2 separate regions of the Homo sapiens genome follow, and region 2 is linked to region 1. Evidence: fine-mapped expression QTL. A gene starts in region 1. The other region holds a variant in brackets. All regions are shown on one strand. Distances are from middle to middle. Region 1 holds the start of SULT2B1 (sulfotransferase family 2B member 1). Region 2 holds the start of FUT2 (fucosyltransferase 2 (H blood group)).

The links. PIP is the estimated chance that this variant, and not a neighbour inherited with it, causes the effect.
Region 2: its variant is the best candidate, but not a certain one, in a credible set for the expression of SULT2B1 in lung (GTEx, PIP 0.77).

The regions. Positions count from the first base shown.
Region 1 is chr19:48,549,525-48,553,907 of GRCh38, reverse strand. It overlaps SULT2B1 (sulfotransferase family 2B member 1), which reads right to left and starts at 1,736. Exons shown (of 7, transcript NM_177973.2): 1 at 1,585-1,736. The coding sequence starts at 1,655. RefSeq lists enhancers at 1-3, 1,792-2,316.
Region 2 is chr19:48,692,222-48,696,604 of GRCh38, reverse strand. It overlaps FUT2 (fucosyltransferase 2 (H blood group)), which reads right to left and starts at 634. Exons shown (of 2, transcript NM_000511.6): 1 at 516-634. RefSeq lists enhancers at 1-235, 800-1,363. The variant C/T (reference allele first, on the strand shown) is at 2,158.

The DNA.
Region 1 (4,383 bases):
GCTGGCTTATCTGTTTATCTCTGGAGAGAAGAATTGCAGAACTCAGAAGTCCTGGATTAGACAATGTTGAGTAAAGAATGCTGGGGCCTCCCTCACGCAGAACTGGGCCAGCCTGGTCACAGCTCTCAGCCCAGGAGGCCCAGAGACATCAGGAAGCTTGTCTAGGTCACACAGCAATCAGGATTGAACTGCTCCTGTCTCTGGAGTCCCAGGCACCCAGGAAGGCCTCTTCATGCCCCAGCTTCTGGCTGAGGGAGGGGAGGGGAGGGCCTGAAACAGTGGAATGAAATGAGGCGGCCAGGCGTGGTGGCCCACGCCTGTAATCCCAGCACTTTGGGAGGCCGAGGCAGGTGGATCACCTGAGGCAAGGAGTTCAAGAACAGCCTGGCCGACATGGTGAAACCCTTTCTCTACTAAAAATACAAAAATAAAATTAGCCGGGCATGGTGGCGGGCTCCTGTAATCCCAGTTACTTGGGAAGCTGAGGCTGGAGAATCACTTGAACCCAGGACGCGGAGGCTGCAGTGAGCTGATATCGTGCCATTGCACTCCAGCCTGGGCAACAAGAGCGAAACTCCATTTCAAAAAAATAAAATAAAATAAGAAAGGAATGAGGCAACTGGGCTGAGAACAGGTCTTGGTTGTCTCCCTCCTCACAGCCCACGGTGGCTGGAGGGGCCCAGGCTGCCAGGAAGGTCTCACTTGGCAAGAGTGCAAGATACGAGGGGTTGGAGATTGTCTCAGCAGTTTGCTGTGTGATCTGGGGCAGGCTGCCTGCCCTCTCTGGGCCTCTGCGCTCCCCTAAAAGATGGAGCCACGGGGAGGGGTGTAAAGGGGACATCACCAAGGCTGTGAGGAGCAGGAGAAACCACAGGCTCTGGCGTGAGACAGACCGGGTTCAGATTTGCTTCTAGCTGCGTAATTGCGGTCATGTCGCGTTCCCTCCCAGCCTCAGTTTCCCCATCTGGAAAGCAGGTACTGTCAAAGTGTCTGACTCATCCCCAGGAAGAGGGAGTCACGCTGAGCTCATGGAAGTGGGCAGTGCTCTGCCCTAACCACTGTTAGGAGACCTGAAGAGTCCAGAGCCTGCCCTCTCCGCCCCAAGTGCCCTAGAACACAGCTTCTCCCTCTGGGGGTCTCAGCAGCATCCCAGTCTCTCCCATTTCACCCCCAAGCACCCCCGTTATTTCAGGGCTTGCATGGGGTGTCCTGGGTACTACAGGCTGTTGTGTTTCCTGAGCAACTACTATGCACCAAGCTGCCTGCTCTCTTCCACTGCTCTATCAGGGAGACACAGGGCTTGTGGGCCCCTTTGACAGACAGAAAAACTGAGGCCCGGAGAGCGACAGGGACACCCCAGGCATCCCCACTGGTGACTCAACACGGTCGGGTCCTCACTCCCTTCTCAGGAGGGACCTATACACCACACTGGATGCCCCAGCCCAGCCCAGCCCCTCCAGCTAAGTCTGGGCCAGGCCTGCGGCTGCGGGTGGCTGGAGGCCACCCTTGCCACAGTCCCCGGCTCCCCCAAACAGCCACCTCCTCCCTGGGATCTCCTGGCTCCTGCCCAGGTCTGGGCCTCACCTGATTTCCGAGATGTCATCTTCATAGGTGTCCCACAAGCCCGGGATCTGGGGCTCGGCGGGCCCGTCCATGGCAGGTGGGTGAGGGTGGGGAGGGGAGGACGAGCAGGGAGCAGGCGGCACAGAGGCCAGGTGTGCGCAGCGACAGCGTCTGCCACCTGGGGAGCCCGCCAGGTGCCTACTCCGTGCCCGGCCCAAGGGGAGGGGCAGCACCCAGCCGGTTCTCCCAGCTGCTACCCACGCCTCCAACAGCGGGGAGAGGCCAGAGGGAGCCACCCTGCTCTGAGGGCGGGGAGGAGCAGTGATGGGCACGTCCTGGCGTCTGGTGCTCAGCTGGGGGCAGAGTCCAGGGGGTCAGTGCCAAGCCCACGCCAGAACCTTCCGGGCTGGCAGTTCTGGGCCTGTGGGCACCCACCTGGAGCCCACGTTGCTCATTTGGGAAATGGCGCTGATCTCGCCCATCTCAGCGAGTTCATTCATTCATTCATTCATTCACTCATTCATTCCTTTATTCATTTGAGAAATATTTACTGAGCATCTCCTGTCTGCCAGGCGCTGTTCCAAGCACTAGGCCACCGCTGGGGAAGGGGCAGACAGAAACTTGCCCTCACGGGCTGACGCGTAAGGGGCACCCTGGAAACAGACACAGGGACAGAGGCACAGCCAGGACCACGGCAGCACAGACAGGGCGGGAGCCAGGGAGAAAGGGAGAGGGCAGAGGGCATGGGAGACAGAGACCAGGAGGGGACTGAGATGCACAGGGGCCAGAGACCTTGAGAGACGCAACAGAGATACACGGAGGGCGGAGACAGAGACACACGGACACCCAGAGGAGACAGAGACACACAGGGGTCAGAGACCCTGAGAGACCCAGCAGCGATATACAGAGGGCAGAGACAGAGATACATAGAAAGGTCAGGGACAGGGAGAGACACAGATATGAGAGACAACTGCCAGATATGGTTGGGCGTGAGAGTCTGAAGGTCACAGCCCTGGTTCAAATCCCAGCTCCAGTGCCTCCCAGCTGTGGGGCCGGGAACCATCTTGCTCATAGGCTCATCTTGCCTTAGTTTCCCCATCTGTGAATGGCACCCATCGGGCTGTTGTGAGGACTGAGGGAGACACTCTCAGCTGCTGGTGGAGGATCTGGTACACAGTGAGCTCAGCATAGACGGTGTTCTCTTCTCTTCTGCCCCCACCCCAAACCCTGGCCCTCCCCAGCTGTTGGTCCCTGACCCCTCAGAGTCCTGGAGTCATGAAGCCAGTCTCCCCACCAGTGGTGGCAGGTGCCTGTAATCCCAGCTACTTGGGAGGCTGAGACACGAGAATCGCTTGAACCTGGGAGGTGGAGGTTGGAGTGAGCTGAGATCACATCACTGCACTGCAGCCTGGGCGACAGAGAGAGACTCCATCTCAAAAAAAAAAAAAAAATGCCAAAAGAAAGCCTGTGCAATGGCTCACGCCTGTAATTCCAGCACTTTGGGAGGCCGAGGCGGGTGAATCGCCTGAGGTCAGGAGTTCAAGACCAGCCTGGCCAACATAGTGAAACCCCATCTCTACTAAAAATACAAAAAATTAGCTGGGCATGGTGGCAGGTGCCTGTAATCCCAGCTATTCGGGAGGCTGAGGCAGGAGAATCACTTGAACCCTGGAGGCAGAGGTTGCAGCGAGCCAAGATTGTACTGTTGCACTCCAGCCTGGGCAACAAGAGTGAAACTCCATCTCAAAAAGAAAAAAAAAAAAAGCCAAAACAAATAAAATTGTATATACTGACCAATTATTGTTGCATAGGTGAGGGGGATGGAAGACGTCAGACTCACCTAACAGATGCAGGAAGGGGGCCCAGAGAGGTAATGTGGCTTCCCCCAGGGCACACAGCACTGCCCGCCTTCACTCTGATGGTAAGCAGAAAAGGAGGGTTCTGGGGTATCCCATCTCTCAATTCACCACCCCAAGACCCGTCTCCAGGAGGCTGAGCTGTGGGAGCACCCGCCCCTGCCCCCAGCCACTACCGAGTCCACATCCTCAACATTCTGCCTTGATACTTTCAGTGTTAAGCCTTGATGTTCCTGCTGATAAAAAGGCTCTCTTGCAGGGTGGGTGGAAGGGTGAGAGGGCCAGGCATCCCCCTCTGAGGCTGAGTGAACCCCTCTGATGTCGGAGGTGGGGGACTGAACCATGACACCCCACCAGGCCTCCGGCTGGGCTGTCTTCACCTTTGTTTTCTATTCAATGACCCTTTGTCCCTGGCTCTGTGTGCTGCTGGGGTGGGGGGTTAGGGAGAGTCTGGGGAAGGGAATGCCCAGGTCCTTAGGGATCCTGAGAGGGAAACTCGCAGGCAGGTGCGGAGGCATCCCCGGGGCACAGGAAGGTTGGGGAGCAGTAGGGCCTGAGGTTGTGCCTGAGTGGGCAATGGAAAGAAACTGGCCAAACTAGGCGGCCTAAGACCCAGGGGAGGCTCCTACTGCAGGGCCTTTGCCCTTGCTATTCCCGCATGTTCCTGATACCTGGGAGCTTCGTGGGCTCCTATCGTCTGACTCTGCCCAGTGTCACCTCCCCCAGGCTCGTCCACCAACTTCTCCATTCCTCTTTCCTGTTTTACTTTTTCCCATAGCACTCGTCACCATCTGACCTCCTAAATGTTTTGCTTCTTTGTCTTGTTTACCATCTATCTCCCCACTAGACTGTCAACCCCATGAAAGAAGGGCTTGTTCTATGTCAAATCTGCGGTTATTTCCCAAGGGAAGAGCCTGGAATATAGTAAATGCTCAATAAGTGCCTGTTGATGGAATGAATGAAT
Region 2 (4,383 bases), 140 kb before region 1:
GTGATTCAGAGCGGGATTAGGGAGTGCAGGAGGGACGGAGCCGCCCTCCCTGGGCGACGGCAGGGCTCGGAGGTGAGACCAGCAGTTTGGGTTCCATGAAGCCTCTGAGGAGCCCCAGGGTGGAGGCAGGAAAGTCGGGTCACCACCAGCTGTGCGCGAGCCATCTGCACCATTACTGCCAGGGTGGTTCATAGAAACTGCTGAGGGGAAGGAGACAAGGAAGGACCTGGTGGCCCGGGGTGGAGAAGGGGAGGGAGCTGGTGGTTGGAGCTCTAGAAACAGATCCACCTGGAAGGAAGTGGGGAGGGAGCTAAGGAGGGCGGCTGGCTGGGGAGGGGGGTCCTGGCTGCCGAGGGAGGGACCCTCCTCTCCTGGAGGTCCTGAGTTGGGGGTGCCTCCCAGAGGGCACCAGGGACCCACGAGGGCACACAGGTCCACGTCCCAAATCCCTGCTCTCCGCCTGGGCGTGTGTGCAGAGGTGTGCGTGTTGTAGGGTGGGAGAGGAGCCCCCTCACCTTCTCTCACCTGGTCCTGCTGAAGGAAACCGGGACAGAGTGGTTGGGCAGGCACCTCAGTGTTCCCTCTGGGTCTCTCTTCACTCAGGGCCAAAGAAACCCTTCCAGCATCGGTGACTGGCAAACCCCGCCCAGGAGCTACAGGGCTTTCCAGAGCAGGTGTGGCTGGGCTGCGGGAGGGAGGTGAGCCCGTAGCCCCTCCTCCCTCCCCATTGCCGGCCACAAAGTCCATCTTGTTATCTACCCTTAGCTCCTCCACCTGCACCAGGCACCCCAAGCCTGGCCATAAGGGTGGGGGAGAGAGGCAGGACAAGGTCGCATCCCCCATCCGGGTCCCCGAGGGTCTTCCTTGGGGAACTGTTGTGATGCCCCAACAGAAAGGGGCCCCCACTCTGCTCCGCTCCTCCAGGCAGCCAGGAAGGCCTCCAGGAAGGCAGCATGGAGGCGGGGGACAGAGTCCTGCTAGGCCAGGCTCTCGCTGACTCTGAGTCCCCTCAGAGTCTTATATTTATTTATTAATTAATTATTAGTAGTATTACTTTTTGAGAGAGTTTTGCTCTTGTTGCCCAGGCTGGAGTGCAATGGCGTGATCTCAGCTCACTGCAACCGCCGCCTCACAAGTTCAAGGGATTCTCCTGCCTCAGCTTCCCAAAGTGCTGGGATTACAGACGTGAGCCACCTCGCCCTGCCTATTTCAAAAAAATTTTTAAATACAAATGGGCCCGGTGTGGTGACTCACACCTGTAATTCTAGCACTTTGGGAGGCCGAGGCAGGCGGATCAACTGAGGTCAGGAGTCAGAGACCAGCCTGGCCAACAAGGTGAAACCCCGTCCTTATAAGAATACAGAAATTAGCCATGGCCCAGCACAGTGGCTCATGCCTGTAATCCCAGCACTTTGGGAGGCCGAGGCAGGTGGATCACCTGAGGTCAGGAGTTTGAGACCAGTCTGGCCAACATGGTGAAACCCTGTCTCTACTAAAAATGCAAAAATCAGTGGGGCGTGGTGGCATGCACCTGTAATCCCAGCTACTTGGGAGGCTGAGGCAGGAGAATCGCTTGAACTTGGGAGGCGGAGGTTGCAGTAAACTGAGATTACACCATTGCACTCCAGCCTGGGAAACAAGAGCAAAACTCTGTCTCAAAAAAAAAAAAGATGGATGAGGAATTTTACTGAGAGAAGAGGCAGGCACCACCAGAGCTCCCAGCAGTCCTAACAGGAGGAAAGAGAAACCAGCAGCCACTCCCCAGCTTCAGCTAAGCAGCAGGAGGCTACCTACCAGCTACGGAGCTCCCTTCAAACAAACAAACAAAAAAATCAGATCAAGCTTCCCACTCTAACCACCAGTTTGCAGAAAACAGGAGGACAAAGTTCCCAGTGAAACGACACCATGAGGCAGCAATCAGCCCAGTCCAGAATGTGAGCCCGTCCACAGGACAAACGACCTGTTTCCCTGTGATTCAGCGACAAGGAAAAAAGAAACAGGGTGGGGCGGGGAAGTGGGGAGGTGAGCTGTCATAAAATATGCAAAACAGGCCAGGTGTGGTGGCTCACGCCTGTAATCCCAGCACTTTGGGAGGCTGAGTCGGGCGGATCACGAGGTCAGGAGATTGAGACCATCCTGGCTAATACAGTGAAACCC[C/T]GTCTCTACTAAAAATATATATAAAAAAAAAATTAGCCGGGCGTGGTGGTGGGTGCCTGTAGTCCCAGCTACTTGGGAGGCTGAGGCAGGAGAATGGCGTGAACCCCGGGGGCGGAGCTTGCAGTGAGCCGAGGTCACACCACTGCACTCCAGCCTGGGCGACAGAGCAAGACTCCCTCTCAAAAAAAAAAAAAAAAAAAAAACGCAAAACAGATTTGGGGCTCAGAGGCTTAGACTTTCCAACTCCATGAATGTCCCACAGATGTTCCAAAGTCATGGGAATGACCTGGGCGCAGTGGCTCATGCCTGCAATCCCAGCACTTTGGGAGGCCGAGGCAGGAGGATCACCTGAGGTCAGGAGTTTGAGACCAGCCTAGCCAACATTTTTTTTTAGTGAAACTCCATCTCTACTAAAAATACAAAATTAGCTGGGCATGGTGGTGCACGCCTGTAATCCCAGCTACTCAGGAGGCTAGGGGAGGAGAATTCCTTGAACCTGGGAGGCAGAGGTTGCAGTGAGCCGAGATGGTACCACTGCACTCCAGCCTGGGTGACAGAGCAAGACTCTGTCTCAAAAATAAAACAAAGTCCTGAGAATGCAGGACAAACCTTCATTGCGTAACTTTTATTGTCGCTGACCCCAGCCGCGTAAACGCTGTGGTAGCATCCTAGGACCTCCACTGTGACAACTAAAAACAACCCCCACAGATTCCCATAACTCCCCCAGGGGGACAGCACTCCGGAATTCAGGACTGTTGCCCTAAACCCTCTGTTTTCCATTTCAGCTTTCCCTTACTGGTGCACGCCCCCATGCTTGGCCACCACGGCCAATTTCAAGCTACCAATAAGAGATCATTGAACATGGAATTGGAAAGAAACGCACAGTAATACATTGTTCTATAGTAAGTCTTCTTACTATGGTAAACACTTACCAGCCAGTTCTCTGGAGAAAAAAACACACTGTATGTTAGTATCTGCCAATCTGTGTGCCAATCAATGTATGTGCTCACTGCAACCTCCGCCTCCTGGGCTCAAATGAGTCTCCTGCCTTGGCCTCCTGAGTAGCTGGGACTACAGGTGCCCGTCACCACACTCAGTTAATTTTGTGTTTTTTTGTAGAGATGGGGTCTCACTATGTTACCCAGGCTGGCCTCGAACTCCTGAGCTCAAAGCGATCCTCCTGCCTCAGCCTCCCAAAGTGCTGGGATTACAGGTATGAACCATCTTGCCTGGCCTATTTACATTTATTATGTCTGTGTAATAGGCTTGCTATAGAACAATGTAATACTGTGCATTTCTTTCCAATTGCATGTTCAATGATCTCATATTGGTAGCTTGAAATTGGCCGTGGTGGCCAGGCATGGAGGCATGCACCTGTAATCTCAGCTACTCAGGAGGCTGAGGCAGGAGCATAGCTTGAAGCCAGAAGTTAAAGACCAGCCTGGGCAACATAGCAAGACCTTGTCTCTCTACAAAAAATAAAGAAAATTAGCCAGACATGGTGGCACATGTCTGTAGTCCCAGCTACTTGAGAGGCTGAGGCAAGAGGAGCCCAGGAGGTCCAGCGTCAGCTATGATCCTGACGCTGCACTCCAGCCTGAGTGACAGAGAAAGACCCTGCCTCTGAAAAATTAAAAAATAAATCTGGGCACAGTTGTTCACGCCTGTAATCTCAGCACTTTGGGAAGCTGAGGCAGGCAGATTGCTTGAGACCGGGAGTTCGAGACCAGCCTGGCTAACATGCTGTAACCCAGTCTCTACTAAAAATACAAAAATTACCTGGGTGTGGTGGTGCACACCTGTAGTCCCAGCTACTCGGGAAGCTGAGGCATGAGAATTGCTTGAACCTGGGAGGTGGAGGTTGCAGTGAGCTGAGATCACGCCACTGCACTCCAGCCTGGGTGACAGAACGAGACTCCATCTCAAGAAAAAAATAAGAAAAGTTTTTTTAAACACAAGTGTGTGAGGGTGGCTGTCCAGGGACACAAGGACACCGAAGAATGGTGATCAGTGCTTCCAGTATGGGGAAAAGTGGAACTCATTTATACAGGTAAAAATGGAGAGGTCAAACGCAGTGGCTAATGCCTGTAATCCCAGCACTTTGGGAGGCCAAGGCAGGTAGATCGTTTGAGGTCACGAGTTTGAGACCAGCCTGGTCAACATAGTGAAGCCCTGTCTCTACTAAAAAAAAAAAAATACAAAAATTAGCTGGCTGTGTGGTGGTGA